Homo sapiens: one gene and its partners. The protein of the gene in region 2 interacts with the protein of the main gene of each other region in a pairwise test. Each region holds a gene or a part of one and is shown on either strand. Other genes may lie near its edges.

Evidence for each region. The genes of interacting proteins can lie anywhere in the genome.
Region 1: the proteins of FOSL1 (region 2) and CREB5 interact in binary tests that used the Homo sapiens proteins (3 or more experiments, as listed by UniProt).
Region 3: the proteins of FOSL1 (region 2) and KIFC3 interact in binary tests that used the Homo sapiens proteins (3 or more experiments, as listed by UniProt).

What each region holds. Positions count from the first base shown.
Region 1 is NC_000007.14:28,814,495-28,821,517, reverse strand, and holds part of CREB5 (cyclic AMP-responsive element-binding protein 5), read right to left. Parts: intron 3,448-7,023; coding exon 3,339-3,447; intron 2,758-3,338; coding exon of another isoform or gene 2,753-2,757; exon of another isoform or gene 2,534-2,752; intron 2,403-2,533; coding exon 2,239-2,402; 3' UTR 1-2,238. UniProt on the Homo sapiens protein: Binds to the cAMP response element and activates transcription.
Region 2 is NC_000011.10:65,897,384-65,905,269, forward strand, and holds the start of FOSL1 (fos-related antigen 1), read right to left. Parts: upstream 3,006-7,886; 5' UTR 2,957-3,005; coding exon 2,858-2,956; intron 1-2,857.
Region 3 is NC_000016.10:57,764,492-57,771,514, forward strand, and holds part of KIFC3 (kinesin-like protein KIFC3), read right to left. Parts: intron 6,947-7,023; coding exon 6,707-6,946; intron 6,210-6,706; coding exon 6,036-6,209; intron 5,465-6,035; coding exon 5,317-5,464; intron 5,235-5,316; coding exon 5,104-5,234; intron 2,495-5,103; coding exon 2,383-2,494; intron 1,150-2,382; coding exon 968-1,149; intron 1-967. UniProt on the Homo sapiens protein: Minus-end microtubule-dependent motor protein. Involved in apically targeted transport. Required for zonula adherens maintenance.

The DNA of each region.
Region 1 (7,023 bases), on a different chromosome or scaffold from region 2:
TTATTCCATTTGCATTTTTTCTTTTTTTCTCTTTTCTTTTTTTGCTTTTTTTTTTTGCTTTTGTTTTGATTCTTCAACCATATATCCAAGTCATAAGTTTCACTGGACACTCAAAACCATCTTTTGAAAGCACTGCATACAAGGAAAGATTGTTGATAAATATTGATTTAAAAAGTAAGTTATTAGATAAAACTGAAACTAGTTATATAAAAATCATGCTTCGAGACCCTCATATTTTCTTTTTTTCTCCAAAATAGATTCTTATACTATAGTGAGAGAAAAAAACACATCCTTCCCTTTTCTGCACTCTTATAAAAGCTACACCTTTTGTAAAATACTGTTCTTTTAAAACCCATGAACACACACACACACACACACACACACACACACATTAAGAGGTCAAGCATTCAAATGGAGATGAAACACCAGCACCTGCCTAGATTGCTAGAGAGAAACATTCACCCCTGTTATTTGTGAGATGTGATATTAAAACATTAGCACAGTAGAATGGCTTGTTTCAAGGAGGCACGACTGTGGTTCAGGGACTATCTGCTTTGTATCACGGGCAAGTTCACAAAAGTTGTTGAAAATAAATCAGAATAATTCAGAAGAGTGAAGTAGGCTGGGTGCAGTGGCTCACACCTATAATCCCAACACTTTGGGAGGAAGAAGTAGGATAGTTTGAGACCAGCCTGGGCAACATAAGACAGACCTCATCTTTTATTTTAAAATAAAAGTAAAAATAAATTAGCCAGGCATGGTTATGTGAACCTGTGGTCCCAGCTACTCAGGAGGCGGAGGTGGAAGGATAGCTTGAACTCGGAGGATGCTGCTGCAGTGATCCATGATCGCACCACTGCACTTCAGTCTGGGCAATAGGTGAGACTCTGTCTCAAAAAAGAAAAAAAAAGAGTGAAGTAGCCTGCACCTCATCCATGGGGTTCCTTCAGCAGTCAAAGAGTGCTTAACTGTTGTGGGAAGGCTAAAAGTGCCCCTATGGAAACACTGGGTTTTCTTTCTCTCTTTGTTTCTCCAGTAGTTAGTCTATTTTCACCCCCCAGAACAGCAAAGCCGGTTCCATAGGCTTAAGAAAAAAAAAAAAATAAATCTTAGGCTATTAGCAGCTGATGATTGAACAATGTAATCTGTGTAGTGAATAGAGCCCTTCTGAATTATTATGTAGTACATGGATTTTCAACGTTATAGGCAGGCCGTATAAAACCAGTCGCAATCCAAGGGTGTCATGTTATAGCCCCACATCAAAATTTGGACTTTCGCAATCAAGGCTTACAAAGCTCCCTTCCCTAGTGTCTCCCCAGCTGGTATTCAACCATGCTTCACTTATAACTAAACCACCTTTCATTTGCTGTGATTATTAAAAACATTAAATCAGGCACATTAAACATCTCCTGGTTACTATTTTGTGAAAAGCAAGAGTTGAATGAACTCCAGCTGTGGGTGAAGTGTAAGTGAAGCAATGGTTAGGTCCACGTTTTGGAGGTTTGCTTTTTTTTTTTTTTCTTTAAACATTATTTTCTTATTCACATGCAATGCTAAAGGGAAAAAAATAAAACAGAAGGAAGTCAAAATGAATAGTAAATAGGGAGCCTAAGAAAAAGTGGAAATGGAGAAGAAAACTGGGCATTAGCAAGTGGACCAAGAGGAGGAGAGGTGAAGAGATGCTTGGTGGTATTATTTGGACATCAATGGATCTTATAATATTTTATAGTAAGAAAAAAAAAGGTATGGGAAAGGCTGTGTGTTTATCTGGAATTCTGGTGACACCACAGCACAAACTCAACATGAGTTAAGATGTCAAAAGATTTCCTACCCAGTTACCTTGGATCTGTCTTACTTGACATCTAGGTATACCTCATTTTAGCTAAAAGCTGTGGTTTAACAAGATTCAATGTTTCAGGCAAAGGGTTGGACTGATAAGAATGAAACCATGGCTATATACAGAAAAGGTTCAGTTTATAAACAAGTAACTGGTACCAGAAAACTGGAGAAAAGCACCAAAGCGTTTCCCAAGCTGATAGATATTAATTGCATAACTCCCTTTTTTCTTATATAACTAAGTATAAAAGACAACATTTCCATAATAACTATAAAAATGAAAGCCAGTCTTTGAAGAACTGAGGAGTCTTCCAGGTCTGAGTTAATTCTAAAAATGCCCTTAAAAGAAAGGACGCATGGTACGCTACAGCTCTTCTTGGAGGCCAGGTCTGATGGTGCATTTTAAAGAATCGGATTCAGGTCTGTTCTGTGAGTGGTGAGCTGGCTGAGGGTGGAGCTTCCTACCACCTCGCTGACCGATGAGGAAGTAGTGATGGTATTATGCTGGATGACTTGTTGCTGGGAGCAAGCTGGGACAGGACTAGCAGGAGGGCTACTCTCTGGACCTAGGGAGAAAAAAAAAGACAACACACACACATACACACACACCAATATAGGTCTTTTTTGTATGGACTTGTGGACTCCTCAGAGAAACTGTACTAGATATTTACTTGAAATAGAAGTTTCACACATTTTCTTCTGAAAGTTAATTTCAAAACTTTATTTTCAACTGTTGTCACAATGCTATGCCTTTCCAGTTTATATCTACGAGCAAAGCCATGCTTTCTGTATCAGTAAAATGATTTGATGTGTTTCAGTCATGGATATGTGAACTTCCCCATTTTGTCTTTTTAAATAGCCATCCGTATATCAAATGTGGAAAAATACTCACATGTGGTGGGAGAATCTGTGTTGCTCAATCTAAAAAATTATTTGAAAATAAATTGACCTTCAGCCATGAATCCCTGCTCCTCCCACCATCCCTACTCAACTATCATTTAACCAACTGGCATTCCAGATGCAGAAACTGGGGTCTGAAGGAAGGGATCATTTTACATATTGGTAAACTGAGGCCAGTCACTAGCTTTTCAGCCCAGTGAGTAACATGCAGTGTTTCTGGAGGCACTGGATATGATTCACCCAAGGCCTGGTTCCCAGACCACAGATTTCTGAAGGCGACTGCTAGGCCACTGGTACTTGGGCTTCAGCTGGCTCTTTTCTTACTGGCTGCAAAATTGGAATTTGGTATTTCTTTTGATACTTTGAAATGCTAGGGAAGGAGTGGCCAGAAATTATCAGGAGGTGGTGGGCATGGTGTTGCACAGGGGTCAGAAAAAAGGGATCCCCTTGGAAGAATAGTCTGGAAGCCACTCAAGAATTCTTGTATATCTGCCTGGAAGTACAATCTACACTTTACTTTTGCTCTTTCAATCAAATTCAGTGCAAACTTAGTGGCAAAAAATATTGGACACTAAAGAAAAGTGAAAAAGTCGGCGACTTACTTAGATATCCTTGTGATTCTTTCTGCATGGCTGTTATTGGGCAGTCTTTATGTGTTAACAACAACTGTTTCAGCTGGGCCACCTCATTTTTCAACATAGACACTTCATTCTAAAAGAGATATGTATTAAAACCATGTTGAGAAGACCAGAGGATACAAACCCACAGCCCTGTGCACTTTCAACAACAAAACTGGCAAACTCTTCCATTATGTCTAAATGACATTAAGAATATTATTTAATGTGGTTCACCTGAAAGTTTGTAGCTTACCTTTAATTTGGCCCTCACATTTCCCAGGGGCTTTCTGCAGAGCTTAGGTTTTAACTCAAGAGCTGAACCTTATTAAAAGGCTAGACCACACCCTTAGGTGATGGGAACCGAAGCCAGGTGAGAATCCTTACTCCACACTGACTGTGTGACCCTAGGTAGATTACATAACCCAGCTGAGCTCCAGCAACCTCGTTATAAGATGGGGATAAGAAGAGTACATTATTTGTGTTACTATGAGGATTAAATACAGTAATAGATGGGAAACAGAACAATACCCAGCACATAATAAGGACTTAATACATTTAACTATTGTAACCTTCACAAGCTCAGGTTTACATCCAATTGAGAATGTGAATATGAGGCGCACATTGGGCAGAATTATGTGGTAGGATTTGTGGCTTCCACCTGAAATGCAATCAGAATAAGCTGACTCATCTACCATCAGATTTTCCAAAAGAAGTCTGTGTTGCTCAATCTAAAAAGAATATCTGAAAATAAATTGACCTTCAGTCATGAATCCCTGCTCTCCCCACCATCTCCTACTCAATTACTGTTCATGGGATACTGTTGAGCAGAGCACATCTACCTGCCTGATGCCCACTGAGCAGGAGGTATGGAAGCATACAGTACACATGTTGGTCAGCTGCAGGTGGATGATGTCAGCTCAGGGTGGCAAGGAGGCAATGAAGTTTTGGGCCATGATTGAATTAATTTGATTGAGTTCATTGATTATTTGGTCAATTTCGGTCTATAAAATACTCTTTCCCCCCTCAATATCAGGATATTGTGGATGGTGTGGGGTTTTCTTCTTATTTACTCATGTAAGTGCCTCGGATCTCTACTTTATCTGTTAATATTAATTCACAAAGGCATGCTCATAGCTTTGTAGAATAATGAACTTGGCACCCATTGTCTACAAATATAAACATAAAATAGATGGTAGCTCCGAGATGCTTCCACTTGATAAAAGTGAACGTAAATGTAGCACTATCTTGAATAAGCCACTTAAAAATTGTGATCAATAATATCCTCTCTTTGGTCAAGGTTTATTTGTGGCTGCCAGGCATTATACCTCACATGTAGGAGACTTAAAAAATGCATGCACACCGAAAAGGACGATTAACATTGCTGTCATTAAGTTGTACCTACACTTTCAATATGAACTTGGCTTTTCAGCCATGTATTTATCACCTAGGAAAGTATGTTTGGGATTCTAGAAGTTGCGCTAAAAAAAATTGAAATCTGTTTTAAGGAATATCTCCCATTTCTAAATTTCTTGGTGAAATAAATTATAAGCAACCACATATTGAGTAACATTAATAACAAAAATAATAAAATAAAACAATGACAAAATAATAAAAATCTCATCTACAAATCTCATCTCATTCCCTTTCTCTTCCAAACTTTATTTTTACAAAATAAAAATGACTATTTGGGAAATTAGCCTTAATGATGAATAAATCACTTAATCAAACAAGAAAATTGCTCTTACATCTCAGAACATACAAGAAGGCAAATTGTACCTCCCAACTCCAAATGAATGTGATTGATAAGGGGCTCTGTGGAAACCAAAAGTGACCCTGTCAATTCCAAGGTCAGTGGGATAACTTACAGGACAATTTATTTTAGCCTTAAACACTAACTTCTTCCTCTTTGACTTTACACCTATCTAAATTCAGATGGCCTTCCTTCTTTTTCTCAGTTCTCCTTCTGCTCAAAATAGCACATATAAAAGAAAGTCACTTCTAGACCATCAAATGAAGGCAATCTCTGGTTAAAAAAAAACAACCAAACAAAAACCAAGAAAGGAAACAGAGATGTGTTTATGTGTGTGTGTGTGTGTGTGTGTGTGTGTGCGTATATATTTGCTTCAGAAGGAAATGTCATATTATTTGCATTTAGACTACAGAAATAACACTTTTCTGAAATCGAAACTGCTAGACACCTTGCCCCCTGAGTAGAAGCTCTCAGCTGCAGATAATGTAGACAATGGATCTTAGAAAATGGAATCAAGTTCTAATTTCTAGTGAATCCACACTTTTCTACCTAGAAAACAAACAAGAAAAGTATTAAAAACAAAACTGGGTTCTCTTGCTTTCTTATACTTTTGGAAGAAAAAACACCCCTGCCTGTGGCCATCTTGGAGAGGTTGAATTTAGTCTCCATTTCTTCCCCCACTATGTCCTGGGCAATGAAACCCTTTCTTGGCAGCATTCGATCTCCCAGGCACAAAGTGTTCATTGCCCCTTCCCTAAGAAAACACTCAATTCTATTCTCTGGGTTTCTACAGTTAGCAAAGAGCTAACTGCCTATGATATTTGGCATGCCCCAAACAGTTTCACAATAAATTTTTGCTTTCATAAGTCTGTTTTACTATAAAAAGAGCACTAGTCAGCACATGTGGTGCCCTGGCCTATCACCAAAACCCCATACAAAGTATATGACTTTGGTGGCATTTAGTCTATGAACAGCAAAACACTTTATTAATAAAGCAATATGTTGTAAGTACAGAGACCAAAGGCCTGAGTGTTGTGAGGATCTGTAAAAATGCAGAACCCTGAGAATATTGAGACAACTGACCATCATTTAAAGATATATGTGAATATGAACATATTCTTTTTTTCTTTTTTATTGTTATAGAGACAGGGTCTTGCTATGTCGTCCAGGCTGGACTACAGTGGCACCATCATAGTTCACTGCAGCCTCTACCTCCTGGGCTCAAGCAATCCTCCCACCTCAGCCTTCTGAGTAGCAGGGACTAGAGACATGTGCCACAATGCCCACCTAATTTTAAAAAATGTTTTGCAAAGATGGGGTGTAGCTATTTTGCCCAGGCTGCTCTTGAACTCCTGGCCTCAAGTGATTCTCCAGCCTCAGCCTCCCCAAGTGCTGGGATTACAGGCATGAGCCACTGTGCCTGGCAGGACATATTTCTTAATGTAACATGTTAATACTTATTTAGCCATGTTATTGTGGGAAAATGAACACCAATTAATGTCCTCAGTAGAGAAGGGCAATCAGCTTCTTGTTTATCCATATACATATAACTATGATGCTGCAAGGACTAAATAAAGGCCTAATAACCACATAAGCCATAGAAATTCATGGGGCAGCATCCAGTAGGAAAAGGAACTCTCACTTGAGAGTTGAGAATAATAGGGTTTGAGTTCCCAAGCTGCCATGCCAACCAAGTATAAAACACGATGGTTGAACTACTTCCAGAAAGTTCCTTCCAGAAAGAATTTTTTTTTATTCTACAAGCAATTCTGTGTCACCTTCTATTGAGAAAGCAAATTACCCAATTATCCAATGAAAGAGTCCATCTTGACTTTTATTCATTACTTAGCTACTTTCAATATGCTCAAATATGCTTATAATTCAGGTCTTATCTTTCATAAGGGAGCCAGTTCTAGCACC
Region 2 (7,886 bases):
GGCTGGAGTGTAGTGGCACGATCTCAGCTCACTGCAACCTGCGCCTCCCAGGTTCGAGTGATCCTCCTGCCCCAGCCTCCTGAGTAGCTGGGATTATAGGCGTGCACCACCATGCCCGGCTAATTTTTGTATTTGTGGTAGAGACAGGGTTTCACCATGTTTGCCAGGCTGGTCTCCAGCTCCCAACCTCAGGTGATCCACCCGCCTCGGCCTCCCAAAGTGCTGGGATTACAGGCGTGAACCACAGCGCCCAGCCTAGTATCTTCATTTTCAGACGGGAGAACAGTTGTCCGCAGACACAGAGCCAATGAGCCCAGCAGCTGGGCTCTTACCCACTCCTGCACCCGTTTGCACGAAGAGGATAATTACAGCTCCCAGCTCAAGGGGAGGCTGTGAGAATCAGGTGAGAGAATGTGTGCGACAGTCTGGTAAGTGGCAGGTGCCCAGTGCAGAGGGGCTGAGGCAGGAAAGAGTCACTGCTCTGGGTTCAGGCCATTCCATTGCTTTTTTTTTTTTTTTTCTTGAGACAGGGTCTCACTCTTTCACCCAGGTTGGAGTGCAGTGACCTGCGGGCTCAAGCAATCCTCCCACCTCAGCCTCCCAAGTAGCTGGGACTACCGACGTGCACCACCACATTTGGCTAATTTTTTTTTTCTTTTCTGTTTTTTTTTTTTTGAGACACAGTCTTGCTTTGTCACCCAGGTTGGAGTGCAGTAGCCCGATCTCGCCTCACTGCAACCTCCACCTCCTGGATTCAAGCAATTCTCCTGCCTCAGCCTCCCGAGTAGCTGGGACTACAGGCGCCCACAACTGTGCCCGGCTAATTTTTGTATTTTTAGTAGAGACAGGGTTTCACTATGTTGGCCAGGCTGGTCTTGAACTCCTGACCTCTGGTGATCCACCCGCCTTGGCCTCCCACAGTGCTGGGATTATAGGCATGAGGCACCGCGCACGGCCTGGCTAATTTTTTTTAAATTTTTTTGTAGAGACAGGGTCTCACTAGGTTGCCCAGGGTGGTCTCAAATTCCTGAGCTGAAGCAGTCCACCCACCTCAGCCTCCCAAAGTGTTGAGATGACAGGCTTTAGCCACCTGGCATGGCAGGCTGTCCCAATTCTAATCTCAGCTCTCAGCTACTTACTGGCTGTGTGACCATGGGCAAGTTATTTAACCTCCATGTGCCTCAGTTTCCTCATTTTTAATATTGTTACAGGTGAGGATTACAGGATTTCACTGATGTTAAGAAGTACCCTTTAATAGCTCTGAAATCATAGTTTAATTGGCAATTTAAAAAATTTTAGTGGACTAGGCATGGTGGCTCATACCCAGCACTTTGGGAGGCTGAGGTAGAAGGATCACTTGAGCTCAGGAGTTTGAGGTCACACCGGGCAACACAGTGAGACTTCATTTCTACAAAAAAATTAAAAAATTAGTTGGGTGTGGTGGTGCGTGCCTGTGGCCAGGTCGCTTCCCAGCTAGGATCTCAGTAGGATTGCTTGAGCCCAGGAGGCTGAGGCTGCAGTGAGCTGTGATTGCACCACTGCTCTATAGTCTGGGCAACAGAGGGAGACCCTGTCTCAGAAAAAAAAAAAAAAAGAAAAGAAAGAGAAGGAAAGAAAATTAGTGGCATAAAGTTATAGTGGGTTTTTTTTTCAATCGATGAGGTCTTCGATTCCGTGAAATATGGTAAATGATGTAGCAAGCGCCCAGCACAACGTCCCTGTTCCCATTCTATCAGCCAGCTATCTGAGGAGTGGGTTGGGATGGGGCTCAGTGTTCTGGGAGAAGTGGGTTCTAGCTCTGCCGCTGGGCCCTGGGTGTGGGCGCCCAATCGTCCGGGAAGCGCCCACAAGCCCAGGCAAGTCCCGACAGCGGTAGCCCGAGCCCAAGCGCTGCGGGCCCGGCGTCCCAGTGACCCCAGTTCCGGGTCCGAGGCACCGCCGGCGGCATCTCCCACTCCCGGGCCCGGGCCGCTCCAGGCCAGGAAGGGAGGGACGCCCCGGGTGACTCAGCCGCCGTGACTCGGCCGCCGTGACTCGGCGGAACGGACGCCCCTCCTTCCCTCCCCTGTCGACACGTGCTCGCAGCCCCTCGACAGGAAATGGGCACCTGCAGCCTCCCGGGTGCCCCCCGGCGGGCAGCGGGCGCCGTTAGGGGCTGAGAGTGGGGTCGCGAGAGTCGCCCGCAGCCTGACCCCGCGCACGTCCCGGAACCTCGAGGTCTCTATTCGCCGCATTCGGCAAAGGGATCGAGGGCCGGTCTCCGGGGACCTGGCAGGTTCCACTGCCCGGACCCCCCTGGACTCCCCAGGCCGAGAAACGATAGGGACTTGGCGACGGAGGGGCGAAGGACAGACAGACGGACGGACACGCGGAGGGTCGCAGACCGGGCCGGGACTCCCACCCTGGCCCAGCTGCTCTCCCGACGGATCCCGCCTCCCTCCCGTGTGGGGACCCTCACCCCAGCCCAGACTCCAGATCCCAGGAATTCAGCCCGAAGCGGAGAGACCCTCCTAGCCTTCGAGGCGACCACCCTAGGCGCCCACGCCCCTTCTGAAGCAGGGTGGACGCAGAAGTCAGAGGTGGGCAGGAGGAGAGAAAGCGGGCACGGAGACGGAGGGACGGACGCGGACGGCGAGGGAGAAGGGGGCGGCTGGGAGAAGGGGAGTTCGCGGGTCTCTGCTGCCCGCTGCGCGGTGGGGGCAACTGGCCCCGGACGGCGAGGGGCAGGATCCTCGCCCCAGCCCCCAGCCCGGCCCCGACTCCGGTTCCCCGCTCCAGTCCCGGAGCGTGCGGGAGTTGACCCCGGCCTCCCACGCGCGGTCCTCCCGTGGGACCACCGGCGTCGGGCCCCACTCACCTGCTGGGCTGCCTGCGCTGCGGCCGGGGGCTGCGCGGGGCCGCCGTACCCGCCGCCGTTCCCGGAGCTCGGGCCGGGTTCCCCGAAGTCTCGGAACATGCCCGGGGCTGGCGGCTCTGCGGGGTACACGGCTGCTGGGTTCTGACTCACCCGCGCCGTGCGGAGTCTTTTCTTTTTATGAATGAAAAGTTCTCGGGCTGAACCACTGCGACCGCGGGGGGTGGGGGCGTTGCAGCGGCGCGGTCACCTCCAGGCTCCACCCCCGAGACGCGCCGCCTTGGCCCGTCGGTCCCGAACTTGGCGACGCCTCCCCAAGTCCGGCTGCAGCCTTTTCACCGGGATGGGCCCGGCTCGGCGTTCCCCGGAGGCTGCGGGCCCGCCCCCCTGACGTAGCTGCCCATACATGGTGTAACTTCCTCGCCGCGCCCAGGTGGAGCCCCGGGTTCCCCTGCGGACTGACGCACCTGCCAGAGCCCGCGCCCCGCCCCAGCCCTCTCGAGGCCTGGGCTAACCTCCGTTTCTGCTCCCACAAAATAGCACGAAAGAATCACATCTCTAGGAGCCACGCCAACCGCCACCCAAAGCTTCGTGGAGTGAGGTCTTTCCACTGGCCTTGTTTTAAGGCTTCGAGTATATGAAAAGTGAATAAATGACAAACCAGGGTTACAAAAATGGTGGCATATTTTATTTTACTTTATATTTTTGAGACCGGGTCTCTGTCACCCAGGCTGGAGTGCAGTGGCTCGATCTCGGCGCACTGCAGGCTCAACTTCCTGAGCTAAAGGGATTCTCCTGCCTCAGCGCCCCCTCCAAGTAAGTGGGACTACAGGCGCGCGTCACCACACCCAGGTAATTTTTGTGTTTTTTGTAGGGATTGGGTCTCGCCGTATTGCCCAGGCTGGGTGGTATATTTTAAATGTTTGCGATAAGGTAATGCTTTGAACTAACCCCACATAAAATGCAATATAATAGTATTACTCAGGATAATTTCAGGAGCTATAACGAGTTTTAATTCAGGGCCACTACAGGTGTCCTGAGGTCTGATAAACGCCATCTTCATTACGGTCAGTGCCTTTCGGAGGCTTGTGGCCACCAGACTTGTTTGGAGAGTATGTCAAAGGTGAGTGAATGTGAGGCAGGTATCATCCTCATCTCTGTTTTACAGATGGGGAAACTGAGGCTGGGAGATGCTGAAATGAATTGCTTGAAGTCGCTAAGTGAGTAGCTGGCACAGGTTGCCAAGTCACAGCCGTGGGCACTCCAAGCCCAGGCTCAGCCAAGATTTTCAAAGCCCTTACACCTTCACAGACACCTTGTCGCACATCCAGAATGTTAGTGCTGGGCACCATCCCAAAGCTTCTCTCTGATTACTTCCATCATAGATGAGGAAACTGAGGCCCAGATGGAGTACTGAGCTGTCAGTTGTCACACGACTACAGAAAGAGGGCTGGGGCCAGGTGTGGTGGCTCATGCTTGTAATCCTAGCACTTTGGAAGGCCAAGGCAGAAAGAACCATTTGAGACCCCATCTCTACAAAAAATTATAAAATTTTCTGGACATGGTGGTACGCCTGCCTTGTGGTCCCAGCTGTTCTGGAGGCTGAGGCGGGAGGATGGCTTAAGCCAGGGAGGTTGAGGCTGCGGTGAGCTGTGACTGCGCCACTGCAGTCCAGCCTGGGGGACAGAGCAAGACTCAAAGTAAATAGATCAAGAGAGGGCTGGGCTCTCCTGCTTCTCCATCGGTCCTTCCATTTCATCAGCTCTAGCTTTGCCCTCTGGGCTACTTTCCTTGGGAACACAGGCCAGAAGCCTGTGGGTGCACTCAGGACTTAGAGCCAGGAAGTCCAGATTGCCCCTGGGGTTCTAGTCCCAGAGCTACCATTTTCTGTCTGTGTGACACTGGGCAGGTCACCTTCCTTCAACTGGGCCTCCCTGCTGATCTCACAGAGCTGTTGTGGGATCAAGTGAGATCACAGATGTGAAAATGCTTTGTAAGCTATAAAGTGTTATGCACTCAGAAAGTGGTTACCAGCCTGGTGCCTCTCCTTTGCCTTTGAGCGACCCAATGCTTGTCACCCTCTTGTCATCATCATCTCTGTGTGTGTGTGTGTGTGTGTGTGTGAGAGAGAGAGAGAGAGAGAGAGAAAGAGAGAGAGAAAGGAGAGGAGAGTGTTTTTGAGGCAGTATGATCCGTGGACAGAACACCCGTGCTGGGGTCAGACAGCTCTGGGGTCTGGGTTTGAATGTGGTTAGGCTGCTCACCAGTTGTGTGACCTAGGTGAGGCACACAATCTCTCAGAGCCTCTTTCATTATCTGTGAAATGGAGACATAATGATAACTATCTCAAGGGTTGTTGGAGGACACAAGTAATGTCACATGCTTAGCACAGCACATAGTAAGAATTTGACACATAGGCTGGGTGCCGTGGCTCACGCCTGTAATCCCAGCACTTTGGGAGGCTGAGGCAGGTGGATCACGAGGTCAGGATTTCGAGACCAGCCTGACTAACATGGAGAAACCCCGTCTTTACCAAAAATACAAAAGTTAGCTGGGCATGGTGGCCCATGCCTGTAGTCCCAGCTGCTTGGGAGGCTGAGGCAGGAGAATCGCTTGAACCCGGGAGGCGGAGGTTGCAGTGAGCCAAGATTGCGCCATTGCACTCCAGCATGGGCAACAGAGTAAGACTCCGTCAAAAAACAAAACAAAACAAAACAACCCAGGGGTGAGAGCCTTTGGGACTGATCACACATGAAGGCACTCACACAGCACATGTGCACACACACTGATACCTCAACTTCTTGGCAGAGCCCAAGCTGGACAGGTCAAGTGTGACACAGGTAACCAGGGGAGGGGTGACACAGGTCAGCCTTGACTGCATTCACTTGCCTGCTCCAGAAACATCACCCTGCACCTGACCCCACCGCCCCCAAGCAGTGGATGCTGGGGCCACTGGGGCAGCTGAGGGAGCAGGGATTCAGGTCTGGGGTGTGTGTGTGTGTGTTACATGACTTTGAAAGTCTCTTCCTGCTCTAACCGTCACTGGAGCCACAAGGAGGTCCTTTCAGAGGGAGCACATTCCAACCTCCTCAGTCACTAACCCCCGCCTTGTGGCTGCAGAAACGTTCCTGGCCTCTGACCTCACCAGCTTCCACCCAGGGAGGCCAGGAGAGAACCCCAGGGGGCCACAGCCATCGCTGGAAGTTTGGGGGCAGGGAGGCCTGAGGGACCCTGCCACTGTGCCTTGGTGGCTCTGTAAGACTGGCTCAGTCCCTTCCCATCTCTGAGCCCCAGAGAATCCCTGCCTTTTGGGGCTGCAGTGAAGGAGAGGAGGCTTGGCACCCTGTGCATTCTCAGCATGGCCAGGGCATTGGAGGTGATATTTATGTTTATCAGTTTCTATTCACTCTTTAATTGAAGTCTATGTTGTTTTTGTTTGTTTGTTTGTTTGTTTGGTTTGAGATAGGATCTCACTCTGATGCCTAGATGCCTAGGCTGGAGTGCAATGGCAGGATCGCAGCTCACTGCAGCCTCAACCTTCTGGGCTGAAGCGATCCTCCCTCCTCAGTCTCCCGAGTAGCTGGGGCTACAGGCGCGTGCCACTACGCCCAGCTAATTTTTTTTGGCTCAAGCAATCTGCCTGCCTCGGTCTCACAAAGTGCTAGGATTACAGGTGTGAGCCACCGCACCTGGCCTTTGAAGTTTACATTTTTACTTGAGATTAAATTCATGTAACAAACAATTAACTACTTTAAAGTGTACACTTCAATGCCATTTATTACATTCACAATGTTGTACAACCACCACCTTTCTTTAGTTTCAAAACTTCATCACTCCAGAAAACACCCCACACCTATGAAGTAATTACTCCCTATTTCCCCCTTCCCTCATCCCCTGGTATCCACTAATTTGCTTCCTGTCGCTATGGATTTGCCCATTCTGGGCATTTCAAATAAATGGACTCATTCATATATTATGTGGTCTTTTGTCTGACTTCTTTACTTAGCATAACATTTTTGCTTTTTTTTTCTTTCTTTCTTCTTCTTCTTTTTTTTTTTTTTTTAGATGGAGTCTTGCTGTTGCCCATACTGGAGTGCAGTGGCCCAATCTTGGCTCACCGCAGCCTCGGCCTCCTGCACTCCTCAAGTGATCCTCCTGCCTCAGCCTCCCAAACTGCTGGGATTCCAGGTGTGAGCCACCGCACTGGGCCAGCATAACATTTTCTTTTCTTAGTATTATTATTTTTTTTAAAAACGGAGTTTCGCACTGTGGCCCAGGCTGGAATGCAGTGGCATGATCTCTGCTCACTGCAAGCTCCACCTCCTGGGTTCACAGCATAACATTTTCAAGGCTCATTCATGTTATAGTATGTATCAGTACTTTGCTCATTTCTATGGCTGAGTATATATAACCATTTATTTATTTATTTTTGAGATGGAGTCTTGCTCTGTCGCCCAGGCTGGAGTGCAGTGGCGCGATCTCCGCTCACTGCAAGCTCCGCCTCCCGGGTTCACGCCATTCTCCTTCCTCAGCCTCCTGAGTAGCTGGGACTACAGGCGCCTGCCACCACGCCCGGCTAATTTTTTGTACTTTTAGTAGAGAAGGGGTTTCACTGTGTTAGCCAAGATGCTCTCGATCTCTTGACCTTGTGATCCGCCTGCCTTGGCCTCCCAAAGTGCTGGGATTACAGGCATGAGCCACCGCGCTGGGCGTTTTTTGGACAGATATCTATTCAAATCTTTACTTTTTTTTTTTTTTTTTGTAGAAATGAGGTCTCAATATATTGCCCAGGCTAGTCTCAAATTCCTGGCCTCAAGTACTTCTCCTGCCTTCACCTCTCTTCACGCTGAAATGACAGGTGTGAGCCACTGCTCCCAACCATTGCCCAGACTGGAGTGCAGTGGTACGATCTTGGCTCACTGCAGCCTCCACCTCCTGGGTTCAATTGAGTCTCCTGCCTCAGTTTCCCAAGTAGCTGGGATTACAGGCATGTGCCACCATGCCCGGGTAATTTTTGTACTTTTAGTAGAGA
Region 3 (7,023 bases), on a different chromosome or scaffold from region 2:
CTCCTGCTCTCTCTCAAAGAGTGCTCAGCACAAGGAAGGTGGAGGCCAGCACATGCCTGGGGCCTCTCTGGCCTGGGCCTGCCTGCCAGCCATCAGAGGATGGGGGCAAAGATAGAACCAGACATGAGAACAGGAGGGCACAGGCCTGGCAGGGCTGGCAGGTTGGTCTGGGCAGAGATAAGGGAAGAGTGGACACTGAGAACACATGGTTCTCATACAGCCTCAGGGGGTTGGGGGATTCCTAGGAAGGCCCAGGGGACTGATACAGGAGGGTATTCCCGGATGGGGAAGATGGGCAGGGTCATGAAGATGGATGGGGCCATGTGGGTGGCCATGGGGGTGGGAGGGGCTGTGATGGTGGGAGGGGCCTGAAAGTGGGTGAGGCCACATGGTGGGAAGATGGGAGGGGCCTGAGGGTGGGTGGGGCCATGCAGATGGGAGGAGCCACAGCATGAGGGTGGGATGGGCTGTGATGGTAGGAGGGGCCTTGGGAGTGGGCAGGGCCATGCAGTGGAAGGGGCCACCTGAATGGGAGGACCCAAAGCCATGGTGGTGGGAGGGGCTGTGGGTGAGGCCATGTGGTGGAAGGGGCTGTGGATATAGGAGGGGCCACATGGTGGGAGGAGCCACAGCTGAGAGAATGGAATGAGTTACGATAGTGGGAAGGGCCTCAAGGGTGGGCGGGGCCACACGGTAGAAGGGGCCTTGGGGACGGGAGGAACCACAGCCATGGGAGGGGATGGGCTGTGTCTGGATCTCTCCTTCCTAAGGAGGCTTTCAAGGGCTTCAGTCTTAACTTCCCACCCTCTTCTGTCCTCCAGAGGAAGGAGCAGGACCCTGGCTCCCCACTTCTGATTCCTGCACCCCCCACTCTTAACGCTTCTTCCTGCCCAGCGCCCCCGCTCCCTGTGAGTCCATCTTTCCCTCTCTCCCTTGCTTTCCCTTTCCCGCATGGGGCCACACTCACGTCCTGCTGCGAGGCCTGTGGGGAGAAGACCTTGTCCAGCTCGAAGGACACAGGCTTGCCCTTGTGCAGCAGGTGGATGATGGAGTCGTCGTCGGCATCGAAAGTCACAGCATTGGTGGCCTCAGGTCCTTCCCCATCCTCTTTGGTGACTGGCCGGACACGAGCAATCACTCGGATGTTCCCTGGATTGGTTGGGGATGGGGAAATGGGTCCAGGCCATGTCAAGACCAGTCTCCATTCTGGTCCACTGGTGTCCCAGGCAGACTAGTTGACCTAGGAGTCCCCTGACTTTTAAGCACAGCCCCCTAGGGGAAGGGGGCCCACAAAGCTGTTATCCGTCATTCACACTATAGTATGAATTCACTTAGTACATTTCTTCTTGAACAGACCAGTTGACTGGGGTGGAGCTCTGCCTTGGGGATGGGGAGGAAAGGTCAGTTGTGGGGCTCAAGCACTGCACCCCGTCAGGGTGAGACACCAGAACGGACACTCTTTTTCTCCCTGGACTTCAGTTTCTTCATCCAGACAATGAGGGGCTTGGGCCCCAATGAGCAAAGAGCCTTGTCCTGAATGGCAGGACAGGGCTTAGGAATCAGATGGGCATATAGGCCCAGGCAGCAGGTGATGACTGGTGGTGTATCTGAGGGCCCAGATAGTGGGGCAGCCACAGGGGTATCTGGCAGCATGAGCTGGTCATGCCGCCATCTACTTCCAGCCTTTGTTGGGATCCCTGTGCTCTTGGAATGAAGAGGAAACACCCCCCACTGCCAGCATGGCCCACCTGCCCTCCCTTTTCACCCATCCGTTCCAGCTCACTGTCCAGGTCTCAGCTCTAACTTTGCCTTCTCTGGGAAGCCCCTCAACACACTTGCCTGTCCCATACCCAGGAAAGCCTGTCTCAGCCCTGGAAGGGGGCAGGGTTGGGGTTCCCTGACAATCATCATTGTTGATTCTCACACTAAAGTGTGCACCGGGAGGCAGTCTGTGGGGCCACGACCATAGCCTCGGGCTGGAACGGCACCTGGCACAGAGCAGGCACTCTAGAGCTCCATGCAGTGAATGGTGGAGTCTCAAGCTTGACCAGGCCCCAGGTCAGAATAAGCGGCTTTCCAGCTGCCACCAACCCAATGCTGCAACACCACACCCCTCGGCTACCCAGGGCCTGGGGAGTCACCTGCCCAGGCACTGGGGCCAGGGCTTCTGAGCTGGACAGACTCAAGTTCAAATCCAAGGCAGACCATTTAATATCCATGTGGCTTTGAGCAAGTTCCCTGCCTTCTCTGTGCCTCTGTTTCCTTATCTACAGAGATAGGATTAGAATAGTGCCTCAATGGTGGGGTGAGCTCCAAGCATGACTGCCAAGCCAGGTCGAGGACCCCGAGGCCAGCGCCCACCCCCAGCCCTCCTGCAGTCACCTTTCAGCCGCACGAGCTCATTGTGGCACTTCTTACGCAGCTGCAGCTCGCGGCGGTACTTGCGCAGCAGCTCCTGGTTGTTGCTGTTGACCTCCTCGATGGCCTGGCCTATCTGGTGGGGGGTGCACACCACTGTCAGGGGGACGGCTCCATCAGCCTTACCGGCCTGACTGCCCACCCCTGAGGGGTGCTCACTGCCTCCTGCCCCTGGCTGAGTACCTGACACACGCTGTCACATGTCAGACTGTCCCAATCACCCCTCTGGGTAGGTACTGCTACCATCCCCATTTTACAGATGATGAAACTGAGCCGCAGACACTAAGCTGACAGCTTGAGGCTGCTCTGCTAATAAGCATAGAGCCAGGACTCAGCCCTCCACACCACAGCACTAGTGCTTGACTATGTGATTCAGCCAGACTCAAATTCCAACTCTGCCCCTGAGTAGCTGGGGACCTGAGACCACTGGCTCAATGTCTTTAAGCCTCAATTTTCTCATCTGGAAAGCAGGGATAATACCATCTAACTCATGAATCTGTAAAGATCTCCCAGTTACATTTCACAGGTAGAAAAAAGATGCAAAATCACACATACAGTATCACACTGTACACAAATCACACATCCCCTTTCTGGAGTAGAAGGGAAGTGTATACAGTGTATACAGTCTTCCCTTAGTAACCGTGGAGGATACAAAAATCCACAGATGCTCAAGCCCCTGATATAAAATGATATAGTGTTTGCCTATAACCTACACACATCCTCCCATATACTTTATTTTTTTTGAGACAGGGTCTTGCTCTGTTGCCCAGGCTGGAAGTGCAATCACAGCTCCATGGATGTGGTGGAAACTCATTGTGAGTGGTGTTATCTTGGCTCACTGCAGCCTTGACCTCCCAGACCCAAGCAATCCTCCCACCTCAGCCTCCCGAGTAGCTGGGACTACAGGTGCAGGCAACCACACTCAGCTAGTTTTTTTATATTTTTTTGTAGAGATGGGGTCCCACTATGTTGCCGAAGCTGGTCTTGAACTCCTGGGCTCAAGTGCTCCTCCTGCCTCAGCCTCCCAAAGTGTTGGGATTACAGGTGTGAGCCACTGTGCCCAGCCCCTCCCATGTACTTTAAATCATCTCCAGGTTACTTATAATATCTAATACAATGAAAATGCTGGGTAGGGGCTGGGTGCAGTGGCTCATGCCGGTAATGCCAGCACTTTGGGAGGCGGAGGTGGGCGGATCACCTGAGGTCAGGAGTTCAAAACCAGCCTGGCCAACATGGTGAAGCCCAGCCTCTATTAAAAATACAAAACAAACAAACAAACAAACAAAACTAGCCCGGCATGGTGGCACACGCCTGTAATCCCAGCTATCCAGGAGGCTGAGGCAGGAGGGTCGCTTGAACCCGGGAGGTGGGGGTTGCAGTAAGCTGAGATCCCGCCATTGCACTCCAGCCTGGGCAACAAGAGTGAAACACTGTCTCAAAAACAAAAAAATGCTGTGTAAATAGTTGTTATATGTTATTTTTTATTTCTATTATTTCTAATTGTTGTACTGTTAATTTTTTTCAACTATTTTTGATCTGTGGTTGTTTGAATCTGGGAATGCAGAACCTGTGGATGGGGGAAGGGCCTACCATATATTCTCACACACACACACACACACACACACACGCACAATTGGCTTAAGCATGCTCAGAACAGTCGGGGGAAATGCTGAGAGGCCACATTGGAAGAGTTGGGTGGGTGGCAGAGAGGCCTTTCCTATTCACCTGATGCCCTGCTATGGAGTTTGACTTTTCACCACGTCCATGTATTACTGATATAGTCTTTTAAAGGAGAAGAACTATATTCTGTTCCCAAAATATATTAGTCTTTGCAAAGCTATCATACAAATTCAAGGAGCTAACGGCTATAAACAGCTCGACATGTAGGAGGCACTTAAGAGGCACTGGTTATTCTCATATGTACAAGTACAGCTTGAAAGAATTAAGTTAAACCTAACAGAGGTAAGACTGTATCGGCCAGTCATGGTGGCTCACACCAATAATCTCAGCACTGCGGGAGGCCAAGGCAGGAGGACTGCTTGAAGCCAGGAGTTCAAGACCAGCCTCGGCAACATAATGAACCCTGTCTCTAATAAATAATTTTTTTAAAAAATACGTATGTAGCATGTTTTTTGTTTGTTTTTGAGATAAAGTCTCGCTGTCACACAGGCTGAAGTGCAGTGGCATGATCTTGGTTCACCGCAACCTCCGCCTTCTGGGTTCAAGTGATTCTCCTGCCTCAGCCTCCCGAGTAGCTGGAATTAACAGGCACCTGCCACCCATGCCCAGCTAATTTTTGTAATTTTAGTAGAGACGAAGTTTCGCCTTGTTGGCCAGGCTGGTCTCAAACTCCTGACCTCAAGTGATCCGCCTGCCTCGGCCTCCCAAAGTGTTGGAATTACAGGTGTGAGCCACCGCGCCTGGCCTGCATGTTTGAAATATGAAGTTATCTGTAACATGTTTGGTTTAAAGAATCATAGTAAGACAAATAGCCGAATGCCTGCCCTGAGCAGTCTAGTTTCAAACAGGGCCTATAAGGGCAGCAGTAAGTGTCATGGGGGGTGGGGCAGGGGCTGCTGTCTGAGCGGCTTTGTCTGAGCTTTGGAGGGACGCCCTGAGTGGATGTCGTGCCTCTCCCAGTGCACCCCCTTAGCCTGGACCCTCCCACCCACTGCCCTCGCTCACCTCGGCCTTGACACTCCTGAGGGCCTCCTGCAGCAGCAGTGGGAAGCCGCGCACCTGCCGCTTGAGCCCATTGTAGTCGTTGGTGAGGGTCCGCAGTGCCGGCTGCAAGGTCAGCAAGTTGGTCCGGACGCCTATGGGGACACTCGGGCTGTGAGGCGGGAGGGGATGAGGGGCCGCGGCGTGGGGCAGACAGGGCCCAGCTGGTCAGCTCACCTGCTAGATTCTCGTGCACAGCCTTCATCTCCACCTGGGCTCTGGCAAAGGCCTCCTCAATGGCCCGGTTCTTGTCCTCTTCCAGGGACTGCATCTCCTCCAGCATCTGCCCATGGGCCCGCTCCAGCTCTGACTCGTACATGGCAATCTGGCCAGACCAGGAAAAGGCTCAGTACCTCGAGGTGCGGGAGAGAGAGGGGCAGGTGCCACACCGAGAAAGAAACTGGTCACCTCCCATGCACATGAACACACATGCACACACACATGTGCACACCCAGAGGGGCAGAATGGCCTTGTCTCCCTCCCCCTACAGGGCTGTGAGCTCTGGGCATTGGCTCCAACACCAACCCAGTGCTGAGCACACATCAGGTGCCCAAGCCACGTGCCCTCAGGAAGGTAGGAGAGGGCCTCTGTGATGACAGTGACAAGTGCCATGTAGAGCTTACTGAGCACAGCCTGTGTGCTGGGCCGTGGGCACAAAGCTTCTTGGGATGACGTTCCTGAGTCCCCACTGTGAGGTGGGTTCTGGGACCAGATCGTGTTATAATAGATGAGGAAAAGGAAACCAGACAAAACTTGCCCTGGGTCCCGTGGCCATCGGGGAGAGGAGGGACTGGACCCCGTGTCTGTGGGGTACCCAAATGTTTAACCGATGCATTGGCCCAAGGGCCTGCCTCTGGCTTCCTGGCTGGGCATGTGCCCCCACACAGCCTGGGTACCTGCGCCCGGAGCCGCGCGGTCAGCTGGTGTGAGCTCTGCAGCTGCTGTTCCATCTCCTTCAGCACCTGCCTCTGCATAGCCACCTGCTCCTGCAGGTGCTGGTTCCGGGCCTGGGACTCGCTGAGGGCCTGCTTGGTCTTGGACGACTCCACCTCCACTGTCTTGATGACATACTGCAGGGTGAGGGAGGAATGGCACGTGGAGCCAGCGGGCACCGTACCTCACCCAAGAGCCTGAGACGCAGCAGGCCAGGGGAAGGAACTCTCGGGAACATCCCACTCAGAAACCAGAAAAAAACTAGAGGAGCCTTGAGGTCCTGGCTTTCCAGAAAGCTGGGGGGGTCTCCTGGAACCTTCTCAGCTTAACAAGAGGCTACTATGAGCCTGGCTGGGGCCCCATCCTGGGTACAGACAAGAAAGGCAAAAAGACGAGGGCAGAATCCAGGGGCTGCGCTGCATCTGTGCCTGGCACCTCAGCTGTTGGATACCTACTCGGTGCCTGGCCCTGGATACAGGAAGGGGAAGGGGCAGGACCAAGCACAGAACTGGAATGATTCTTCCACCCACACACACCTACCTATTCACCAGGACAAGCCCCCCTTATGGGCTAGCCCTGCCCCAGGTGCCAGGGGCCTTGGGCTGAGGCACAGATCAGGTGGGCCAGGGCTCACCTTGACAGGTGGGGACTGGGCCCGCAGGCTGGCAATGGTCTCGTGGCTGTCACGCAGGCGCCGACTAAGCCGCTCCTCCTCCTGTGCCTTCTCAGCCAGGCAGTCCTTGAGTCGCAGCTCCACCTCAGCCAGCCGGTCGGTCTTCTGCTGCACCTCTAGGTTCAGCTCTGACAGCATGCCTTTGCTTTCCGCCATCTCCAGCTGCAGCTGGGACAGCTTGTCACGGAGCTGGGCGCTCTCCTGCAGCCATTGGGAGGCACTGGATGAGTGCAAGGGACAGGCTCACTGTGAGGAGCTGGGGTGGCCCTCCAGGACCA